Linked DNA regions of Homo sapiens: regions 2 and 3 are each linked to region 1. Evidence: fine-mapped expression QTL. A gene starts in region 1. Each other region holds a variant in brackets. All regions are shown on one strand. Distances are from middle to middle. Region 1 holds the start of CFAP70 (cilia and flagella associated protein 70). Region 2 overlaps MICU1 (mitochondrial calcium uptake 1). Region 3 holds the start of C10orf55 (chromosome 10 putative open reading frame 55).

Evidence for each region. PIP is the estimated chance that this variant, and not a neighbour inherited with it, causes the effect.
Region 2: its variant is fine-mapped to the expression of CFAP70 in monocytes (Quach 2016, PIP 0.95).
Region 3: its variant is fine-mapped to the expression of CFAP70 in whole blood (INTERVAL, PIP 0.99).

Annotation. Positions count from the first base shown.
Region 1 is chr10:73,355,408-73,363,593 of GRCh38, reverse strand. CFAP70 (cilia and flagella associated protein 70) reads left to right here and starts at 4,730. Exons shown (of 28, transcript NM_001367801.1): 1 at 4,730-4,816. RefSeq lists enhancers at 4,536-5,061, 4,906-5,125, 5,062-5,587.
Region 2 is chr10:72,564,933-72,573,112 of GRCh38, reverse strand. MICU1 (mitochondrial calcium uptake 1) reads left to right here. Exons shown (of 12, transcript NM_001195518.2): 2 at 6,319-6,480. The coding sequence starts at 6,320. Among named protein-coding and RNA genes, the nearest start is that of MICU1, 57 kb to the left of the region's middle. The variant TA/A (reference allele first, on the strand shown) is at 3,886.
Region 3 is chr10:73,922,033-73,930,218 of GRCh38, reverse strand. C10orf55 (chromosome 10 putative open reading frame 55) reads left to right here and starts at 7,442. Exons shown (of 5, transcript NR_160938.1): 1 at 7,442-7,586. The variant G/A (reference allele first, on the strand shown) is at 3,822.

The DNA.
Region 1 (8,186 bases):
GACAGAATGAGACCGTGTCTCCAAGGGAAAAAAAAATGTTTAGGAAGCAAAAACGTTACAGTAAGCTAAATTAAATTTATTATTAAAAAGTTTTAAAATAAATTTAGTGTAGCCTAATTATATAGTGTTTGTTAAGTCTGCAGTAGTATACAGTAATGTCCTAGGCCTTCACAATTCACTCACTACTCATTCCTTCACTCACCCAGAGCAACTTCTAGGCCAGCAAGTGCCATTCATTGTGAGTGCCTTCTACAGGTGTACTATTTATCTTTTATGCCATATTTTTACTGTACTTTTTCTATGTTTAGATACACAAGTACTTACCATTGTGTTACAATTGCCTACAGTATTCGGTATGATAACATGCCATACCTGTTTGTTGCCTAGAAGCAATAGGATATACTCTATATGACTTAGGTATGTGGCAGGCTACGCTATCTAGGTTTGTGTAGATACACTATTTGCATTTCCATCACATTTAGTGATGTTGAGCATTTTTTCATATATCTGTTGGCCATTTGTATACTTTCAAGAAATGTCTATTTAGATCTTTTGTCCATTTTAAAATCAGATTATTTGTGGGGTTTTTTTTTTGGATTTTTTTTTTTTTTTTGGTGTTGAGTTTCTTATATACTCTGGACATTAACCCCTTGTCAGATGCATAGTTTGTAAATAAAGACCATGTATGACAGACACACAGCTAACATACTGAATGAGGACACGTTGAAAGCTTTTTCTCTAAAATCTGGAACAAGACAAGGATAGCCACTTTCACTACTTCTAGTCAACATAGTACTGGAAGTCCTAGCCACAGTAATTATGCAAGAGAAAGAAACAAAGGGCATCTAAATTGGAAAGAAAGAAGTCAAACTTCCTGTCTGCAGATGACATGAATTTATACACACAAAACCCTAAAGATTCCACCAAAAAACTGCTAGAAGTAATAAATTCAGTAAAGTTGCAGGATACAAAAGCAACATACAAAAATCAGTAGCATTTCTATATGCCAATAGTGAACTATCTGAAAAAGAAAACAGCAATCCCATTCACAATTGCTACAAAAAACAAAACAAAAACCCTAGGAAGTTTTAACCAAGTAGGCAAAAGATCTCTACAATGAAAACTACAAAACATTGATGAAAGAAACTGAAGACACAAATAGTATCCTATGTTCATGGATTAGAATAATTAACATTATTAAAATGTTCATACTTCCCAAAGTGCTCCACAGATTCAACACAATCTCTATCAATATTGCAATGACATTCTTCACAGAAATAGAAAACCCTCAAATTTATAGTTTTAGTTCTTACATTTAGGTCTTTGGTCCATTTTGAGTTATTTTTTGTATATGGTGTGAGGTAAGGGTCCAACTTCATTCTTTGCATGTGGACATTGTTTTTCCTTGTACCATTTGTTTAAAAGACTATATTACCCCCTCCCTCCCACATCCCAGTAGATCATCTTGGCACTCTTGTTAAAAATCAGTTGACCGTAAATGTAAGAGTTTATTTCTGAACTCTCAATTCAATTGATTATTTTGATCTATATGGCTATCTTTATGTCTTTATTACTGTCTTCGTTACTTGATTACTGCAGCTTTGTAGAAAGTTTTGAAATTGGGAAGTGTGAGTTTTCCAACTGTTCTTCTGTTTCAGGATTGTTTTGGCTACTCTGGGTCCCTTGCATTTCCATATGAATTTTAAGATCAGCTTGTTAATTTCTGAAAGAAAAAAAAAACAGTTGGGGTTTTCATAGTGATTGCTTTCAATCTGTAGATCAATTTGGGGATGAGCAATACATTTGATTGTATTATTGTCAGAAATATGTTGACTTTGGAAGTAACAAATTAGCTAATTAGAAACAAGTCTTTTGGAGTAATGAGAAAGGAATTTGTTGAGCTAGTGCATCATTTAATGGAGGCCTTTGAAACTCAGACTAAGGCATTCAAATTTTATTAGAAAGATATTTTTATAGTTTTTTTCCCTGAAATTGGTTTGCATATGTAGATGATTTTATTATGATTCCAGTACTATTATATTTTCCATACCACTAAAGAGGGCTTTTTCCATACACAAGTGGATGTTTTAAATCAGTCAAAAAGAATGCCTTTCAAACAGAGTGGCCACTGCTAAGCACTGTAGGAGAATAAAAGAACTGTAACACACACACACACGGGAGGCTGAGGTGGGAGGGTCACTTGAACCCGGGAGGCAGAGGTTGCAGTGAGCCGAGATCATATCATGCCACTGAACTCCAGAGCAAGACTGTCTCAATAAAGAAAAAAAAAAAAAAAAAAAGGCCGGGCATGGTGGTTCATGCCTGTAATCCCAGCACTTTAGGCGGCTGAGACAGGTGGATCACCTGAGGTTAGGAGTTCAAGACCAGCCTGGCCAACATGGCCCTGTCTCTACTAAAAATACAAAAATTAGCCGGGCGTGGTGATGGGTGCCTGTAATCACATCTACTCCAGTGGCTGAGGCACAAGAATCACTTGACCACAGGAGGTGGAGGTTGCAGTGAACCCAGATTGCGCCACGGCACTCCAGCCTGGGCTACAGAGTGAGACTCCATCTTAAAAAAAAAAAAAAAGAAAATTGTAACATACAGCCCTTGCTCTCAGGTACCCTAAAGTTGAATGGAGATTAATTATGTTTAAGGAGGTGACATCTGTTATTTATCCTTGCTTGCCTAAGACCTTGAAGCAAAGTACTAAGTAGACCAAGATCATGAGCGATTTCTGGAAGAACAGCTCCCTATTAAAGACTTGGCCTAACCCAGCTTATTATGTAGAAAGAGTCTGTCATTTGCAAGTGGGATAGCTGTCTCAGTGCAAATTCACCCAAAACTCTCACTTGGGAAAAAAAATCCAGAGAGAAATCCTTACTCAGTAGTGCCACAGTAGTTTTATTTTGAGAACCTTTATTACCTGTAACACTGCAACTTTCAAAAAATATTTCTCAATATTTATAATGTTTCTTTATTCATATAAATAAAAATTTTAAAATTTGACTCTGGTAACTATTTCCTAAGCAAAGGGCTTCCCAGGGAGAGTGGTTATGCGTGTGTATATATTTTAATTGTTTTGAAATGATCTCGAATGTATAGAAAAGTTGCCCAAATCGTGTAAGGAAGTCCCATGTCCCCTGCACTCAGATTCCCAAATAGTTAACACTTTATTGCACTTGTTCCATTGCTCACTGTGTGTGTATGTGTGCAGGTGTGCATGCATGTGCATATGTGTGTGTACATGTGTATGTATCCCTTGTTAGTCTTTTTCTGGACCTTTTGAAAGTCAAGAGAGCAAATTGAAGAGATGGTGTCTCATCACTCCTAAACACACTAGTGTTTATTTTCCCCTAAACAGGGACACTCTCCTACCTAACAACAAACAAACTTCCACATCAGGAAATCAATATTGGTACAACACTACCATCCAATTCAGATGAGATTGGGCATGTTCGGGGTGGTATGCGATTCACAGAGCTAATTCACATTTTTCCCACCGTCCTAACAATGTTGTTTTCCTTTCTGGTCCAGAATGCTATACAGAGATACATATTGAATTTAGTTGTCATATAACCTCAGTCAGAGACAGTTCCCAGTCTTTCTTGTCCTTGGATGGTCTACAACCTGAGTTCCTTTCATGGTAGGAAAACCAAAAAGGATGCTTTGTGTGTGTGTGTGTGTTTTTTTTTAGTGTGTTTCACCAGGAGGCTCACAATGTAGACTCCTCCCAACACTGGTGATGTTAACCATGATCACCTGATCATGTTGGTTGCGTCCATTCACTGTTTCCCCCTCTGTAATCAAGTAGTATTCCATGGAAGCATTCCAAAATCACGCCAGTATTCTATGCCTCATAGAACATCTACCCACCAGCCTTAGCGTCCATTGAAGACTCCTGCCTGAGTCATCCTCCTCAGTAGTTGTCAAATGGTAGTTCTCTATTTCCATCCTTCTCGCTACACTTCTGGGTTGGCATCCTACTTTGAAAGAGTTTTCCTTTTTCTCTGTATCAACACGGACTTGCATATTCCTATTTTATTCAATGGGTTGTAATCCGTTATCGTCGTTGTTTACTTCATGCTCAAATTGTCCCTTATTTGGCCCATGGGAGTCCCTTCAAGCTGGCTCTTAACACTGCAACAATTTAAAGTATATATACTGCTAAAATTCATCCGTGTTGTGTGTATGGCTGCAGTTCATTAACTTTGACTGCTTGTAATATGCCATTTTGTGAATATGCCACAGTTTATTGGTCCACTCATCCACTATTCCTTCGACGGGCACTTGGGTTGTTTCCAGGTTATTGCTATTGTGTTTTGCTATTCTAGCTCTTTAATGTTAAATTTTGAATATTAAAAATTTGTATTAACATCATAAACTTCAGGTCTGTTTATTGTACAAATATTGAGCACCTAGAAGCAGGGTCATTTTGCACTCTCATCAACAGGGCGTGACGGGCTCATTTAAAAAATATTGCATATTTCACGGAGAAATATTTAAATGATGTTTTCAAATCAGTTTAATAAAGGCCTTTTTCTTTAAACTTCCTTTTGCTTTTTTCCCTCCTATTATAGAGAAATATTGAAATCAAAGAGTCGAGAAAGCAAAATGTAAAGGTGGAAACCTATGCACTTAAACCCAACTCTTGGCAAGGTAAAGCATCCGCGGAAACAGCAGGCTCTCGAAGTGAGGAGGCTGCAGCCGGCGCTAGGGCGCAGGCGCAGAAGCTCAGCGTCTCGCTCCCTGCTCCCGGCCCCAGAGGGTTATCGCGAGTCTTGGAATAAACTTGCTCGTGCGATGGCCAAAAGTAAGTTCTCGCGAGAGGTAGTTGGTTGCTATAGTTGTCAAAAACATAACTGAGGCTGCTGCAGGTAAGACAGTGATCCCTCCTGAAGAAACTCTCTCTTCCCGGCCTCCCCACCTCAGCCCTGCGGCCACACCACAGCCGTCACCCCGATCTTCTGCTCCCTTAGCTAAGGCCAGGCTGAAAACCCCGATATTTAGACCGAAAAGCCGCTGGCCCGGCCAGGTGCGGACTCTGCCGCCAACCCCAGCCCGGCGACCTCCACAGGAGCGCGGACGTAGACCTTCCTTTACCGCTTCTCGTCGGAGGCCTCCTCATTCTGCGCTGACTGCGCTTGTCCCCAGACCAGACTCAGTCACATCGCCTCCTTCGTCTAACCTTTTTCTCACTGGACTCTCCCCTTGCAGCTTCTTCCGAGCAGATGACAAGAAATGCGTGCCTTGCCGGGGGCAACAAGAGTCCCCACCCTAGCTGCCCTGACTATAACTTTAGTCCTATATCTTGCATTCATAATTCAAACACGACGCGAACGCCTGTTGTGTACAAGACATGGTGCCAGGCACTCTGGGCCCGTAAATATGCGTGAGACAGGTTACATGCCTTCAAGGGTGTAAATGAGCTCTCAGGACAAACGCTGCATATTAATAATACCATTTGTGCAGTGCTTCATACTTAAAAAGCTTTAATATCTTAGGGGATATTCACAATAAATGTGAAACAGGTTGGAAGTTATCCATTTTACAGAAGGTGAAACTGAGGCTTAGAGAAGTTAGGCATTTGCCTAGGGGCACATAGTTGTTAAGTAGGAAAGGTCTTTTGAATACCCAGTCTTCATAAACAGGACAGCTTGTGGTAATGCCACAAAAGACGTGTAAAGTGCTAAATGAATTCAGAGGAAAGGCAAGTTTTTCCGACTGGGAAGCTTCATGGACTAGGAAGCATTTGAGCTGGATTTTAAAGGATGAGTAGGATTTGCTGTAGAGACGGAGTGAGGAGAAAGGGAGAGATAATTCCAGGGGGAAGGAAAAATGCAAAGGTTCAAAAGCGACTAAATGCAGGTAATCTTTGAAAAATACTAAGCAAGAGCATAAGCTAGAAGAGGGGAGTTGACTGGCACTGCAAGATCCTAGAAAGCCCTGAATGTAGTACTACATTTAACTACAGTTAAACTGTAGTGTTACAGTTTATTTGGTAGGTGAGAGGGAACAAGACAGTGATACGATCAGATCTGTACTTTAATAAGGTATTTATCTGCTTGTCTCTTCTCATTTTCTCCCTATTTCTTCTTACTCCACCACTGCAAGCTACTTGCTACTTGCTATGTGTGTTGTTTTGCCTCTGAACGTTTTAAAATCTGTTCCCTTTCTTGGAATATCCTTCCCTTTATTAAGACATAGTTCCAGCGTACTTCCTCCAAGATTTTCCTGGCATGCATATGTATTCTCAAATCCAGCTAGGTCCCAGCTTCATTCAGCACTTCCTTGCTGTATGACTGCTGGTAAGATAACAAACTTCTCTGAAGCTCAATTTTTTTCAATCAAATAGAGATTTAAGAATCTCTTAGAAGGGAGGCTACATTTAAGATAATAAATGCGAAGCACACTTGGCACACTGGCTATAATCAGTTAATTTCCTTGCTTCTCTCATTCTTTTTATTTGTAAAAGAAAAAATAAATTTCCACCCCCCTTTTCCTCCCTGTGTGTTTCACTCCTCCCTTCTTTCCTCTGTCAGAGCACCTGTCTCACAGATTATGACTCCTGGTCTAGTTACACGTCTCTCGTCCTCACTAGATTTTAAATTTCTTGAGGTTAGAGAGTTCACATCTTATCTCTTGTATCCTCAGCACCCATCACAGTGCCAAGCTTAACAAGTTTTTTCAATGAGCAATTCTGACAAAAGCAGGATGAATTAGAGTGAGAAACTGGAGTCAGAGACACCAGTTAGGAGGCTTTTGTTACAGTCTAGCAGAAGGGTAATGAAGGCCTAATGCCATATTATTGAAAAGGAAAGAAGACTGATACAAAAGGGCATTTCAAATGTACATTTGACAAAGAAGTTGTCAGTGCCACTAAAGCCCTTAAAGAGCCCAGAAATATGTTGTTGAACAAATGATTTGACACTTTTAGGTGACTGGAAAAATGCTGGAGTAGCTGAGAAGAGGCAGGATAATTATAAAGTCTGAAGGCTGTAAGATGTTGTTTTCTCTTTTGTATCACCAAGTACACTTAGCATAGTATGTCCTCAGTAAATGTTTGAATTGAGTTAGAAAATAAGGCCTTTTCAACAGGCACAGTGGCTCATGCCTTTTAATCCCAGCACTTTGGGAGGCTGAGGTGAGTGGATTGCTTGAGCCTAGCCGTCGAGACCAGCCTAGACAGCATGGTGAAACCCTGTCTCTACAAAAAATACAAAAATTAGCTGGGCGTGGTGGCGCATGCCTGTAGTCCCAGCTACTCAGGAGGCTGAGGTGGGACAATCACTTGAGCCTGGGAGGTTGAAGCTGCAGTGAGCTGTGATCACACCACTGCACTCCAGCCTGGGTGACAGAATGAGAGCCTGAAAAAAAAAAAAAGGAAGGAAGGAGAGATAAAAGACCTTTTCCAAAAAACAAATATCCAATTTATTATCGAAATTGTTTGTGCCCTTAGTATTGTAAAATTGACAGTATATCTGACTAAATAAGAAATACATTAAGACCTTTTCCAGTGGACTACCATTTTGTGTGGCTGCTTCTTTCCTGCTCTCAAAATATATTTTTGTAAAACTGAGAAGTTAAATAATGTTTGAAGGGAGCTTTGCAGATTAAAAAAAACGGTTACCAGAGAACACTGTGAACAGTGTATGGCAGCAGTCCCCAACCTTTTTGGCACCAGGGACCAGTTTCGTGGAAGACAATTTTTCCACAGACTGGGGGCAGCGGGGATGATTCAACCACATTACATTTACTGTGCACTTTATTTCTATTAGTATTACACGGTAATATATAATGAAATTTTTTTGTTTTGAGACGGAGTCACTCTTTTGCCCAGGCTGGAGTTCAGTGGTGTGATCTCAGCTCACTGCAACCTCTGCCTGCCGTGTTCAAGCGATTCTCCTGCCTCAGCCTCCCAAGTAGCTGGGACTTACAGGCATGTGCCATCACACCTGGCTAATTTTTGAATTTTTTAGTAGAGATGGGGTTTCACCGTATTGGACAGGCTGATCTCGAACTCCTGACTTGGTGATCCGCCCGCCTCGCCTTCCAAAGTGTTGGGATTACAGGCGTGAGCCACCGTGCCTAGCCTATATAATGAAATATTATACAACTCACCATAATGTAGAATCAGTGGGAGCCCTGAGCTTGTTTTCCTGCAGCTAGACAGTCCTATCTGG
Region 2 (8,180 bases), 790 kb after region 1:
ATGTGGTATTGCTTTATATAGATTTATCATACTTTAACCAATCTCTCTTGGTGAACATTGGGGTAGTTCTTAGTGTTTTGCTATTATAAACTATGATATAATAATTATGCACCATATACATGTGCATAATTTCACAAGTGTGCAAGTACATCAGTAGGGTATATTATTAGAAGTGGAATTTCTAGGCCAGTATATGCAGATTATATGAGTAATTTTAATGCAAATTACCAAATTGCCCACCATAAATTGTACAGATTTGCATGTTCATCAGTAGTGCCATTCTGCAACATTGTCAACAAATGTGTTTTCAAACTTTTTGATTTTTGCCCGTTTGATGGGTGAAAAGTATCTGAGTATAGGTTTAATTTGCATTATTTTATTATGAGTGAGATTAAGTATCTTTTCACAGTTTTCGGAGCCATTTTTCTTTTCCAACTGTCTTTTTATATCTTTACCCAACTTTCTGTTGGTTTGTGAAGTAATATTTTAATAATATTTTATTATTATCATTTTTAATATTTACATTCCATTCCATTATGTTATTATAGCATCATTTATTTTTCTGTAGTTGGGCATTTGATCTACTTTTAGAGTGTGGCTGTTATATTTTTTCTGCTGAGAACAGTTATTAAACAGGTTTTTCTCATTAAGTTTATTTGGGAGTCAAAAATGCAAGGATCTGTTATAGGTTTTTGTACTAATTAGCTATGAGGAAATCACATAACTTATCTGGGTCTGAGTTGGTAAAACTCAGAACTTTCAAAGTTTGAAATCCCCTAGAGCCATAGCATATAGAAATGGATTGCCCAAACTAATAAATCTTGAATACTTTATATGATCTTAGTCTTTTCTCCTAAATGAAATTAATTAAATTTTGTTATAGTGTTTTCTACCAAAGATATGAGAGTGCTAAAGAGATAAAAGGAACCCTAAGCTCACCTACGCAATTCTTTCATTTTACCAGTGAGTGAGCTTTTTTCCCAAGGAGGAGGGATGAGCTTCTTTAGTATATACAGCTAGCTGTTGAGTAGTACAGTTGAGACCAGATCTTGGATCATTGGATTTCTGCCATACTACTTAGTGTTTGTTTTTTTTTTTTTACCATAGTACCTAGTGTTGTTGTTATTGTTTTAATTTATTTCTCCTTTTTATCTTCCATATCTCCTGTGCAATTAGATATTAATATGTGTTTGATACCAATGTCTTTATCATTATTTTTTTTTTAGAGGTGGGGTTTTACCATGTTGCCCATGTTGGACTTAAACTCCTGGGCTCAAGCTATCCTCCCACCTCAGCCTCTTTAAGTAGCTGACGTGTGCCACCATGCCCAACTACATTTTGTTTTTCTTTGGAAATTTTTTGTTTGATTCTGTTTTTTATTTCTACACTTATAATCTAGGCACTCATCACCCAATACCTAGGTTATTAATGCCTTCTGGCTGTACTCATCACTTTCCTGTCAGCTCTCTCTGCCTTTGCTTCTTTGCAGTTTATTCCATGCACTGCTAATAGATAGACTGATAATGCTTTAACCCGTTTTTACCATGATCTCTTCCTATTAAAGAACTTGAGTGGCTTCCTATTTTACATATGCTCTAAATTCTTGGTCTGGCATTCAAAGGTCCTTCTCAAGTGATTGTGGCTTACTTAGTTGATCATATGTCTAGCTGTTCTCTACATCTGATCAGATGTTGTAAATTTATCTTCCAGGCTTATATACCCCTTGCCTGTTAGAACTTTTGGCTTTTTGAGGTAGGGTCTTACTCTGTCAACCAAGCTGGAGTGCAGTGGTACAATCTCGGCTCACTACAACCTCCGCCTCCTCGGTTCAAGTGATTCTTTTCCCTCAGCCTCCTGAATAGCTGGAATAACAGGCGCCTGCCACCAGGCCCAGCTAATTTTTGTATTTTTAGTAGAGACAGGGTTTCACCATGTTGGCCAGGCTGGTCTCGAACTCCTGACCTCAAGTGATTTGCCCGCCGTGGCCTCCCAAAGTGCTGGGATTACAGGTGTGAGCCACTGCACTCATCCTGTTCCAACTTTTGAATTGGCTGTTATTTATTTTAAACATTGAAAACTTCCAAGTGTCTGTTCTTTCTGTTGTCAGTGATGAATAATGTTTCCTCCAGATATGCATGTTTTAGTTTAGTGCTCATTTTTGCTGTAGCGAAGAGCAGTGCTATTTATGTGAGTGTACATGTGGATTTGAGAAATGTTAATTTTGAAATGAACCAAAAAAAAAAAAATCAGAAGTTGCCAGACAGGAAGAAAATATAATGGACAGCCTCCTGGGTGCTGGATTTTGCTAGAGTATGTGCAATAAAATGAGATGATTTCTGGGATTGGGGAAGGATATAAGAATTGTGTTATTAAAGCTTAGGTCATGGAAAATAGGAGAAAAGATTAACAGTTTTTCCATTTTGTCTATATGAGGGCAAGATTTAGGTCCAATTTCAAAATTGGACCTAGATTGGATGAAGGGAGCTAGGAGCAAAGTTTACATAAGAGATTATAGGTATAGGTCCCAGGGAAGAGTTAATAGTAACCAGCTCATTGATTTTAGGAGATGCCTAAGTAGTCTAACCTGACTTGAATCCAAATAATAGAAGACAGTTTTCTAAGTAAATTAGGAACTTAGAGTATACTTAAATGTTAGGAGCAAGTACCTGTATAGTTTGTACACAGACATGTGAAAGTAAAATGGTTAAGTATTTTAAGCACTAATAATGTAACAAGTCCTGTGCTAGACTATGTGTTTACAACTTGAAAAAAAAAATAATTTGGGCCTTGAGGCAAGGGGAGAAAAAATTACGTATGCCATAGGAAGATATGTACAAAGTGCAAAGTAGTTTAAATTAGGAATCAGTGGGCTGGGCATGGTGGCTCACACCTGTAATCCCAGCACTTTGGGAGGCCAAGGCGGGCAGATCACTTGAGGTCAGGAGTTCGAGACCAGCCTGGCCAATATGGTAAGACCCCGTCTTTACTAAAAATATAAAATTAGCTGGGCATGGTAGCACACTTCTGTAATCCCAGCAACTTGGGAGGCTGACGCAGGAGAATTGGTTGAACCCAGGAGGTAGAGGTTGCAGTGAGCCAAGATCATGCCACTGTACTCCAGCCTTGGCGACAGAGCAAGACTCCATCTCAAAACACACACACAAAAATTTAGGAATCAGTGAACTGTGCTTTGAGAAAAATCAAAGGGGGCATGGATTCTTTGTATAATTTGAATGAATTACCTCTACAAAAAAGTGGGACTGTAAAGAAATGCCTCTTCTTCCATCAGCCCATCTGGTGCATTAAAACAGTGAGGTACTATACTGAGCCCTGAAGGTCATAATCTAGAGGGAAAAAAATCATTTACATTAATTCTCTGGATGGAGGTGCCCGAAATGATCCTATGGTTTTGGGGGTGTCTCAACATTTCTCTGACTTAATCAAAATTTTACACCATTCTGAGGCTTAAGACTAAACAAAAGCTTTTGCTGACTAACCCAGTCTCAACTTTATCTTTTTTATTTGTAGTTTTCTGTCATTTCTATCATAATATTTCTATACTTCAAGATATAATTTTAGGCCGGGTGTGGTGGCTCACGCCTGTAATCTCAGCACTTTGGGAAGCCGAGGCAGGTAGATCACCTGAGGTCAGGAGTTTGGGACCAGCCTGACCAACATGATGAAACCCCATCTCTATTAAAAATGCAAAAATTAGCCAGGCATCATGGTATGTGCCTGTAGTCCCAGCTACTCAAGAGGCTGAGACAGGAGAATTGCTTGAATCCGAGAGGCAGAGGTTGCAGTGAACTGAGATCATGCCACCACACTCCAGCTTGGGCAACAGAGTGAGACGCCATCTCAAAAAAAAAAAAAAATATATATATA[TA/A]TATATATATATATATATATGCATATATATGATTTTAGAAATGTATTGTTTTAAAAGTGTTTTGTATTTATCTTGTTTAATTAGAATGTAGATAGTTTTTGGCTTTCTGGGTCTCACATAGGGATGTATATACAGTATGAATTTAATAAATTTTTGTTGAATAAGAACTTCCCAGCCAGGCGCGGTGGCTCATGCCTGTAATCCCGGCACTTTGGGAGGCCGAGGCGGATGGATCACTTGAGGTCAAGAGTTCGAGACCAGCCTTGCCAACATGGTGAAACCCTGTCTCTACTAAAAAAACAAAAATTAGCCAGGTGTGGTTGTCGTGTGCCTGTAATCCCAGCTACCCAGGAGGCTGAGACAGGAGAATCGCTTGAACCCGGGAGGTGGAGGTTGCAGTGAGCCGAGATTGCGCCACTGTACTCCAGCCTGGGTGATAGGGCAAGACTCAGTCTCAAAAAAAAAAAAAAAAAAAAAAAGAATAAGAACTTCCCAGTAATTATCTTGGATGCTGAATTAGTTGGCTATTGATGGGGCAACAAACAACACCCAAATCTTTGCAGCTTACAGTTACACACATTTATTTCTCACCAGCATTCTACAGGTCAGCTGTGCTCAGCTGGCTCAGCTGGGCTTGACAGTGGTTTATTCCAGGCTGAAGTCTGTTCATTATGGATGCCAGTTTGAAGGATCAGTGTCTCTTTGGGACATGGTCTTCCCTCGATGGAGTGCAGGAACACAAGAAAACTAACAGCAGCACCTCCTAAAAGCACTTCATGGAACTGGTCCACATTCCATTGGTTAGAGCAAGACATATGGCAAGACATACGCCAAAAACTTAAAGAGAAGGAAATTTATGACCTGGCATTCATATGCAGAAGGGGAAGAAAAAAGTAGAAAAGTAATTTTGCCTAAGGGATGGGGGATGGAAGAGTAAGTATTTATTGAACAGTAATATGCACTAATACAGATGTTTCAGATTTAAAACAAAACATTAAAAGAATTTTTTTTTAAGTGAAGTTTGAACTATAGAGAATCTGGTAGGGAGGAGGGCTTCCAAGGACCTGGGTGTGAAAAATATTTAATAAAAACTTCAAAGCAGTGTCAGCATTATAAGGTAGGGGGCAGCAAAGTCTCCCCTCCTAGGTTGAAGTCTCCCTACCTAACTCCGAGACATTGAAGTATGGAATTAGTCCTCCCTAGGTTCAAATTCTAGATCTATCACTTCCTACCTTTGTACTCTTGAGCAAGTTATATTTTAGATCTGTAAAATATGGGTACCAGTTATCTTTTTTCATTTCAGCTCTAAACACATCTTTCATTGTCCCGTTTGTGATACTGGAAGTTTTTCCCTTGCCAGTTACTGTTAAACTTTGTCAGTAGAGAGACTAGAAGGACCCTGGAGGAGGGGTGTTTCTTGCTGAGTCTAGTGTGCCCTTTGTGGCTTGCTTCTATAGCATGCAGGAACTAGTGGGACACTCAATGGCACCCAGCTCCTAAGGAGTTTTAGCAGCAACTCTCATATGCAATTTCCTAGTGAAACTGCCTCCCCATGGGTGGCTTCCCCTGGCATCGCGAAGGTCAGCTTCCCAACAAATTCCGCTGGCATGAGTTGTCCAGTAGATGACTTGTTCTGGCATCACAGAGAGTGGCTTTCTAGTGCATTTTGCTGGCATGGCACCTTAGTAAGTTTCTCTGACATACATAGCTGTGCCCTCTCCACACAGTCTGATCTCTGCCCTGTGAGTGAGAGTAGACCTTTTATAGACTGGTCTTTTCTTGGTGCTCTGTGTCAGATCTAGAATAGTAACTGCTCCCTATATCTGCTATTTCTTTAACTTCTGAGTAGTAAATTTCCTGTTGTAACTAATAATTTTTTATTTTTTATTTATTTTATTCATTTTTTTGAGACAGCATCTTGCTCTGTTGATCATAGCTCACTGTCACCTCAACATCCTGGGCTTAAGTAGTGCTCTCACCTCAGCCCCCTGAATAGCTGGGACTACAAGTGCATGTCACCATGCTTGGCTGATTTTTTTTGGTAGAGATGGGGTCCTACTATGTTGTCCAGGCCGTTCTTCAACTCCTGGGCTCAAATGATCCTCTCTCTTTGGCCTCCCAAAGTGCTAAGATTACAGGCATGAGCCACATACCTGGCCTTAATAATGTTTTATATTAAAAGTTTCATACTCAAATTATCATGTGGTTTCTGTCTTCTAATTGTACTTTGACTAATATATCAGTTTTATAAGTAGTACTTTGCTCATAAGATTATTCTGAGGATTAAATGGGATAATATAAGCAAATTGTTTAGAATAGTGCCTGTCATAGAGCAATTACTTTAGTGTTTATTAGAAATGTTGGTAGGATCATCATCATCATCATCATAACTACCACTAGCTAAGAGTGACATTTCTACTTATTGTCCACAGGATGTTTCGTCTGAACTCACTTTCTGCTTTGGCAGAACTGGCTGTGGGTTCTCGATGGTACCATGGAGGATCACAGCCCATCCAGATCCGGCGAAGACTAATGATGGTGGCTTTCCTGGGAGCATCTGCAGTAACTGCAAGTACTGGTCTTTTGTGGAAGAGGTGAGTGTTATCCAACCATCTTGTTCTTGCGTATACTTTTATTCTTCCAGTCATCTCTGTTGTCAGAAAGGAGTTGATTTCTGGCTTAACTCTGTATCAGAATTTCTTGCTCGGATCATTTGGTATTGTTAATATTCGTCTATGAAATAAGATGTTTCAAAGAATTCAACATGCTAAGGCAATACTTAGGAAACACTGTGCTTCAAGGTCTGCCTGTCTCCTCTGCTGAACATTTTAAATAATGGGATAGGGATAGCAATAGCAGCTTTAGAAAATGAAGGCTTTCTGGCCAGGCGCGGTGGCTTACACCTGTAATCCCAGCACTTTGGGAGCCCAAGGTGGTTGGATCACTTGAAGTCAGGAGTTTGAGACCAGCTTGGCCAACATGGCAAAAACCCATCTCTACAAAAATACAAAAAATAGCCAGACACAGGGCGTGAGCCTGTAGTCCCTGCTACTTGGGAGGCTGAGGCAGGAGAATTGTTTGAACCTGGGAGGCAGGTGGAGGTTGCAGTGAGCCAAGATTGTGCCATTGTACTCCAGCCTGGGTGACAGAGAAAAACTGTCTCCAAAAAAAAAAAAAAAAAAAAAAAGAAAATGAATGCTTTCTGAGACTTCACAATTTGGTGACCCTGTGAAATTAACAAAGGAACCTTGGTACTTTAGTGTCCCTGATAATTTTTTTCACTAGTTATGGAAACTTCCTTGGAAAGAAGAGAAAATGTAGTGAGCCACAGTCTTCTCTTTCTTAAAATACATAGTTACTGTTTTTCTGACTCTGTCACTCTCTGTTTTTTATTTTTGTTTGTTTGTTTTTTTGAGATGGAGTCTTGCTCTGTCGCCCAGGCTGGAGTGTAGTGGCATGATCTCAGCTTACTGCAACCTCTGCCTCTGGGTTCAAGCAATTCTCAAGTAGCTGGGATTATAGGTGTGCACCACCATGCCCGGCTGGGATTACAGGTGTGCACCACCATGGCTAATTTTTTTTTTTTTATTATACTTTAAGTTTTAGGGTACATGTGCACAACGTGCAGGTTAGTTACATATGTATACATGTGCCATGTTGGTGTGCTGCACCTAGTAACTCATCATTTAACATTAGGTATATCTCCTAATGCTATCCCTCCCCCCTCCCCCCACCCCACAACAGGCCCCGGCGTGTGATGTTCCCCTTCCTGTGTCCATGTGTTCTCATTGTTTAATTCCCACCTGTGAGTGAGAACATGCAGTGTTTGGTTTTTTGTCCTTGCGATAGTTTGCTGAGAATGATGGTTTCCAGCTTCATCCATGTCCCTACAAAAGACACGAACTCATCATGTTTTATGGCTGCATAGTATTCCATGGTGTATATGTGCCACATTTTCTTAATCCAGTCTATCATTGTTGGACATTTGGGTTGGTTCCAAGTCTTTGCTATTGTGAATAGTGCCGCAATAAACATACGTGTGCGTGTGTCTTTATAGCAGCATGATGTATGATCCTTTGGGTAATTTTTTTTTTTTTTTTGTATTTTTAGTAGAGATAGGGTTTCACCATGTTGGTCAAGCTGGTCTTGAACTCCTGGGGTCAAGTGACTTGCCCACCTCAGCCTCCTAAAGTGTTGGGATTACAGGCATGAGCCACCATGCCCAGCCTCTAGAGCTATCTTAGCCCTATTAATATAGCATGATCTTTCTGGGATGTTACTAAATGCCTTGGGT
Region 3 (8,186 bases), 570 kb before region 1:
CATGGCAAAGATGACTTTGCAGATGTGATTAAGGACTTTTTTTTTTTTTTTTTGAGACAGAGTCTCTGTCACCCAGGCTGGAGTGCAGTGGCATGATCTCGGCTGACTGCAATCTCCACTTCCCAGTTTCAAGTGATTCTTCTGCCTCAGCCTCCCAAGTAGTTGGGACTACAGGTATGCGCCACCACACCCGGCTAATTTTTTTTGTATTTTTAGTAGAGACGAGGTTTCACCTTGTTGTCCAGGCTGGTTTCAAACTCCTGACCTCACGCCCACCTTGGCCTCCCAAAGTGCTGGGATTACAGGCTTAAGTCACCAGACCTGGCCTAATTTAAGGATCTTGAGATGGGAAGATTATCCTGATGGACCCAATGCAATCCTCAGGGTCCTTCTGAGAGGGAAACAGAGGACCAGAGTGGGTGAAGAGGATGTCATGACGGAAGCAGAGGTCACCGTGATGTGGGGTCATGAGCCAAGAAATGCAGGCAGCCTCTAGACTAGAAAAGCAGGGAAATGGATTCTTCCCTGGAGCCTTCGGAAGGAACCCAGCCCTGCTGACCCATTTTACATTTCTGACCCAGAGAATTGTAAAATAATACATATGTTATTTTAAGCCGTTAAGTTTGTTACAGTAGCAGCAGGAAATTAATACATTAACCTCTTTCTACAGTGAGCTTCACGCCACCCAAGCCACCCTGCCCACTTTCCAACCTGAGGCCCCTTCCACCTTCCCAATCAATCTCCCCTGGATTTCCCACATGGAAACCATAACTAGCCTTGCCCTCAGGCTTCCACCAAATTGTTTCCTTGGCATTCCTTCACCTTCTCCTGTTTCCTGACCCTTCCCAGATCTGCATCTCCCTTTAACCTGATAGGTTTTTTTGTTTTTTTTTATTTTGTTTTGAGACAGAGTCTTGCTCTGTTGCCCAGGCTGGAGTGCAGTGGCGCAATTTCAGCACACTACAACCTCCACTTCCCACATTCAAGTGACTCTCGTGCCTCTACCTCCCGAGTAGCTGGGACTACAGGTGTGCACCACCACGCCCAGCCTAACCTGATAGGTTTTTTTGTTTCATTTTGTTTTTTAAGAGCTCAGGCTGGAGTGGTCACAGCTCACTGCAACCTTGACCTCCTGGCCTCAATAGTCCTCCTACCTTAGCCTCCCAAGTAGCTGGGACTACTGGCGTGCATCACCGTGCTCAGCTAATTTTTAAAACAATTTAATTTTGTAGAAATGGGGGTCTCATTCTGTTGCCCAGGCTGGTCTCGACCTCCTGGGCTCAAGTGATCCTCCCACCTCAGCTTCTCAAAGCCATGGGATTAAGGCATGACCCCCATATCCAACCAAACCTGATAGTCTTTAACTCTATCTATTAAAATAATCCGGTGTGAGACATTTAAAAAACATCAAGGTCCCAGCCCAGACCAATGAAGTCAGACTCTGTGGAGGTGGAGCTCAGGTTATCACATAATTTTATAAAGCTCCTCAGGTGATTCTAATGTGCATCCAGCATTGAGAACACCTGCCAACTTGTTGCTCCTCAGTAATCACACTTTAGTATGCGCAAGAATCACCTGGAGAACTCTGAATGTAGATGCCAGGGCCCCACGCCCAGAAAGTCTGGGTCAATACCTCTGATGGGGGCTCAAGATCCTGCTTTTCTAACAAGCTCTCCAGAGGTTCAGATGCAGGTAGCATTTGGAATATTAAGAGACACTTCCATTGCCCTTCTGTCTGCTCCCTTCCCAGGAGACTCAGCTAATTAGATGAGTTCCTTAGATCAATGATCCTCAATCTTTGATGAATATAAGAATCATCTAGGGAGCTTACTAAAAATACAGTTGCCCAGACACCAGTCCAGTTTGTTTAACCAGATCCTACATAACCAGCTGCCCCAGGTGTTAGGATGCATCCTGAAGTTTGAGAATCAACACCTAGAAGAGTGGTCCTCAAACCTGAGCAGGCAATGTAATCCCCTGGGGAGCTTGTTAAAACACAGATTGCTAGGCCCCACCTCTAGAATTTCTGATTCAGTCTATCTGGGGTGGGGCCTGAGAATTTGCAACTCCTAACAAGTGCCAGGTAATACAGAATTGCTAATTTGGGGACCCTAATTGCTTTAGATTGATGTTCTAGGCCAGGTGCGGTGGCTCACACCTATAATCCCAGCACTTTGGGAGGCCAAGGTGGGCAGATCACTTGAGGTCAGGAGTTCGAGACCAGCCTGGCCAACATGGCAAAACCCCCGTCTGTACTAAAAATACAAAAATTTAGCTGGGCATGGTGGTGCACACCTGTAATCCCAGCTACTTGGGCGGCTAAGGCAGAAGAATCGCTTGAACTAGGAGGCAGAGGTTGCAGCGAACCAAGATCGTGCCACTGCACTCCAGCCTGGGTGACAGAGCAAGACTCTGTCTCAAAAAAACAAAGATTGATGTTCTAAGCAAAGTGTTTATCCCACTCTGTCTCCAGTTCATCATTTCTCCTCATTCCCTCAGCCAGCACAGAATTCAGTTGAGGAGACAGAAAGGGCAGAGGGAAGCACTCAAAGAGGTCTTGACTTGAAGGGACTTTCAGAGAAGGACTTCTGGTGAGCTCACCACTAGGGAAACTGGCAAAATTCTAGTAACTCTCTACAGCCAAAGATGGTGGCCAAATTCCAGTGGGAAATAGAAGTAACCTGATCAATAGCTGTTAACTTCACAGATACGTCCAGTTCCAATGGGACTCAAGAGCTTAGAGCTTCCCTGGCAGAATCTCTCAGCCTGTGGTGGTGAGGAGTGTGTAGGTATAGTGAGAAATCAGAGAAAGTTTGAGGCTGGGGGGCCGGGCACGGTGGCTTATGCCTGTAATCCCAGCACTTTGGGAGGCCGAGGCGGGCAGAACACGAGATCAGGAGTTTGAGACCAGCCTGGCCAATATGGTGAAACCCCGTCTCTACTAAAAATACAAAAATTGTCTGGGCGTGGTGGCGTGCGCCTGTAGTCCCAGCTACTCGGGAGGCTGAGGCAGAAGAATCGCTTGAACCCGGGAGGCGGAGGTTGCGGTGAGCCGAGATCATGCCACTGCACTCTAGCCTGGGTGACACAGCAAGACTCCATCTCAAAAAAGAAAAGAAAAGGAAAAGGGGCTGACACTTGTTACATTCGTTCATTCATTCATTCATTTAGAAATAAGGTCTCACTATGTTGCCCAGGCTGGTCTTGAACTCCTGGCCTCTAGCAATCCTCACCCCTGAGCCTCCCAAGTAGGTGGGATTACAGGCATGCACCACCATGGCTGGCTTCACCAAGACAATTAAATGGAAAAACCAAGCTGGAGCTAGAGAGTCCTCCCTCCAATGGCATTAACCCCAGCTTGTACAATACTCTGGAGAGAGAGCTAAAAAGACAGTAGGGTGAGGATGGGAAGAGCCAGGTGAGGGAGAAAGTCATTTTCTTCCCTTTATATGAAAAGAGAATGAGAAATTAAGGGCAACTGGAGAACCACCAAAAAGAGGGAAGGAGAGACTGGGCTAGGAAGCCCACCAGCTGGAGTCCTTACAAAATCTGCTCCATCTCCACAACCTCGTGCCAGAACTTGGTGATGTGCTAAGGGCATGTGATCTGTTGAAACACCAGAAGTCACATTTTTAGGAAGTCAGAAGGCAGACGGCTAGATCCAGCATCTGCTGATTTCCTTATACATGCCACCGACCTATCCACTAACTCATTGCCAGTGCATCACATGACCAGCAGGTTCAGGAGAAATTCCAGGTGTTAGAACCACAGTCACAGGGCTGAACAGGCCTGGGGTATTTCAGAAACAAGCATCACCCTAT[G/A]CAGGCTTGGATATCAGCACTGCGTGGTGATTATGGTGATAGGGAAGTTCTCCAGTTGGGTGGACAGAGTTAAGGAGGTAATTAGCAGAACTAGCTGCCCTGAGGTATTGATCCCCAAGGTTCTACAAGTGGTAACTCTAGCTTGGTCAGCTACCTACTATAAATCACTTACAGCCTCAGTTTCTCACCTGTAAAATTATGCTGTTGCCTTATCTACCCGAAGGCAGGAGACTAAACCAAGTGATATCTCCTTTTCTTCCCGCCCCCAGCCAGGCACCAAGTCTATTCTATCCCCACCAATCTCCCATATTTGTATCCTCTGCTCACATCCCATTGCCATAGCCCTGGCTCAGACACTTTTCAGCTCCTACCTCGCTGATTGCAATAGTCTCCAAACTGGTTTTCCCTGCTGGTAGTCTCACCCAGGCCCAAGAATCTTCCTTTGATCAATTTTTCACACTGCTCCAAAATCTTTAACAATTCCACATCACAAGAAAGTTCAAAGTCCTTCATGTGTCAGGCAGAGTCCTCTAGGCCCGTAGGTTCCAGCTCTTGCCAATCCCTCCAGTCAAATCACTTCAATGCCAGCCCCTACCCCAGCGGCTGGAACCACCTGCAGTCCCTCCGGTGCCCTGGGCTTCCTCCCTCCTCTTCACGTTTGCATGTGCTGTTTCCTCTGCTCAGAGAAGCATTTCTTCCTCCTGTATTTGCCCTTCAAGATTCTCCCCAAGGTCACCTCCTCCACCTTGCTGTCTTAGCCATCCCTGCCCATCTTGTAAATCTTCCTCACCCTGTACTCTATTCATTTGCAATGTGTCTCTTCCCCAACTTGACCCTTATCTCACTGGGGTTGAGACTGGGGCTCTCATCTTTATACCCAATACACAGCACAATGCCAGGCCCATGGCCGACTCCCAATAAGTGTTTGCTATATTAATGAGTGAAGGATGAATCAGTGAATAAATGAAACTTTTGGGTTCTCTTCTAGCCCCTAATCCTCACCAACCTGTGCTAAGAATGCCCTTCTTAGGCCAGCCATGGTGGCTTATGCCTATAATCTCAGCACACTGGAAGGCCAAGGCAGGAGGATCACTTGAGCCCAGGAGTTTGAGACCAGCCAGCCTGGGCAACATGGTAAGACCCTGTCTCTACAAAAGAATTAAAAAAAAAAATTAGCCAGGTGTGGTGGCACATACCTGTGGTTCCAGTTACTTGGAAGGCTGAGGCAGGAGGATCATTTAAACCCAGGAGGTCAAGGCTGCAGTGAACTAGGATTGTGCCACTGCACTCCAGCCTGGGCAACAGAGCAAGACCCTGCTTCAAAAAAGAAAAAAAGAGTGCTCTTCTTTTAGTGGTCCTTTGGTCCTTTTTTTTTTTTTTTTTCTGAGACTGAGTTTTGCTCTTGTCGCCCAGGCTGTAGTGCAGTGGCACCAAACTGGGAAGCTATTGTAGGGTAGACTGGGCTCAACTAATGGTGATGGTGGGGAGGGAGAGAAATGGACGACTTCAAGAGATATCAGTCAAATCCCCAGGATTTGGTGATGGAGGGGATGAAGGAAACCAGGAGAGAAGCATCAGGATGGCCCCAGGTTTCTGGCTTTCATAATTGAATGGATGTGGTGCTATCATCTGAGACAGAAAGTGATGGGAGATGTCTCCACACTGGGGCATGAAGACTCGGCCAGTTTGGGGCAGGTTGACTTTGAGGTCCCCTGTGAGTGACAACCAAAAGGGGTGTCAAGTAGACAACAGAAAATAAGAGTCTGGAGTGCAGAAGAGAGGTCTGGCTAGAGATCAGCTTTGTAAGCCATCTGTTTATTGGTGGTCATTTAAGCCTGGGTGCTAACAAGATCCTAAGGGAGAAAGCTTAGGGTGGGAATAGGAAGTTTAAGATCAGGCTTTAGGAATCCTAACATTTAAGACCGAGTAAAAGAGGTTGAGATTACAAAGGAACCCAAGAAGCCAGAGATGTTAACAATGGCTGTGGAATGCTATGAAAGTATTTTACATTTGTAGCTACTTTTACAATTGAATAAAAATGTTTAGTTTAAAAAGCCAATTTTTTTATGGCTTCTAGAACTTAATTCACTTTCTGGATTTTGAAAAATAGTGCCTGAGGGCAAGAGGTGATAGTCAAAATATTTAACTATCAAGATACCCCAGTAGGACACTTTCGCCTGAGCCAGCTGGAGGAGGGAGGATCTCAGAGGCCTTTGCTGTGCCACAGGCATTAACCCTGTGGTTGCTGGATCATGAAGAAGTGGAGAGAGGCTGATGGCAGGGGCCACGCGGAGAGGATCTCAGGACAGCATCTGTTTAGTCACTGAGCAGAACCAGTGCCTGCTGCTGAGAATCAGTCCTGCAGCAGGGTCATCACCAGCTGGATCCCACCAGATCCTTCCCCACCATCTCCACCTACTCATTGCCCCCCAGAGTTCTCCACCACAATGGACTATTCCTCATTTCCTTAGAACACCTCACCTTTTCATGCCTCCATGAACTTCCCTACGCCTACAATGCCTTTCTTCTAGTTTGGCAAATTTCTGTGTGTATTTGAATGTCCAGGTAAAATATCACCTCTTCTGTAAAGTCGTCATTGACTTCACCAGGCAGAATCAATTGCTTCTTCATTATTTTTCCATGCATTTTATGCAGACTTAGTATAGCACTTTGCAAAGTGGTGAGCTCCTTGAGGACTAGGACTGCCTCATTTGTATCTAAAATAATGTCCTGTGTATGGGTACTTTAAAAAAATGACAAAGGGCCGGGCGCAGTGGCTCATGCCTGTAATCCCAGCACTTTGGGAGGCCGAAGCAGGTGGATCATGAGGTCAGGAATTTAAGATCGGCCTGGCCAAGACGGTGAAACCTCGTCTCTACTAAAAATAGAAAAAAATTAGTGGGGCATGGTGGCAGGCACCTGTAATCCCAGCTACTCGGGAGGCTGAGGCAGAGAATTGCTTGAACCTGGGAGGCAGAGATTGCAGTAAGCCGAGATTGCGCCACTGCACTCCAGCCTGGGCGACAGAGCGAGATTCCATCTCAAAAAAAAAAAGAAAGAAAGAAAGAAATGACAAAGATTGTTGAATGAATCTCAATGTGACTGAAACCTCAAAAAGAGACCTAGAACATCCTTTTTTTTTTTTTTTTTTTTTTGAGATGGGGCCTCTTTATGTTGCCCAGGCTGTTCTGGAACTCCTGAACTCAAGGGATCCTCCCACTTTGGTATCCCAAAGTGCTGGAATTTACAGATGTGAGCCACTGCACCTCGCCTAGACCATCTTTTCCCTCAATTTGTTATTAAAACTCAGCAACCTCACTGACACATGCTATGCCATGGATAAAACTTGAAAACATCATGTTAAGAGTGAAAGAGGCCAGTCACAAAGAACCACATATTATAGGATTCTATTGATATGAAATGCCCAGAATTGGCAAACCCACAGAGAGGACAGAAAGTAGTAAATTAGTGATTGCCTAGGGCTGAGGGGGTTGGGGAGAAAAACGGAGTGATTGTGAGTGGGTACAGGATTTCTTTGTGAGGTGATGAAGTGTTCTAAAATTGATTGTGATGTCTCACAATTCTGTGAATCTACTAAAAACCATTGCATTGTACACTTCAAATGGTGCCAGACGTGGTGGTATGAGCCTGTAATTCCAGCCACTCAGGAGGCTGAGGTGGGAGGATCACTCTGGCCTAGGAGTTTGAGATCAGCCTGGGTGACAGAGCAAGACCCTGTCTCTAGAAAAGAGAAAGAATAAATGGGTAAGTTGTATGATATATGAATTATATCTCAATAAAACTGATTTTTTTTCTTTAGAGACAGGGTCTTGCTCTGTCACCCAGGCTGGAGTGCAGTAGTGCAATCATAGCTCACTGCAGCCTCGAGCTCCTGGGCTCAAGCAATCCTCCCGTCTAGGCCTCCCACAGTATTAGGATTACAGGTGTGAGCCATTGCACCTAGCCCAGAATTGATTTTTAAAAAACACCTCAGCAACTCCTCTTACTTCATCTAATTCAAAGGGAGGGCTTAAATGTTTCCTTCTTGGAAGGAAGGTGGACCCAATGGGAGTGAGTATGGAGGGGTATAGGCAGGGGTGCTGCTGTGGTCAGCTTGGGAAAGATAGGGCATACGTGGAAAGCAGGCTGAGTGCTGTTAATATAATGGGCTGAGAATACTTCAGAAAGAGGGGTTCTGGTGAAAACGGAAACCACTTCAATGAAACCAGATTGCAGCAGAAAGGCTGAGGTTACTGTGAGAACAGTGAAGTTTTACTTTGAAACCAATGGCTGAGTGTGGTCTCCTCATCTGGCCTGGGAATCTTCTAGGAGGAAAGAATTGTTATCTAGGAGAGGATTAAAATT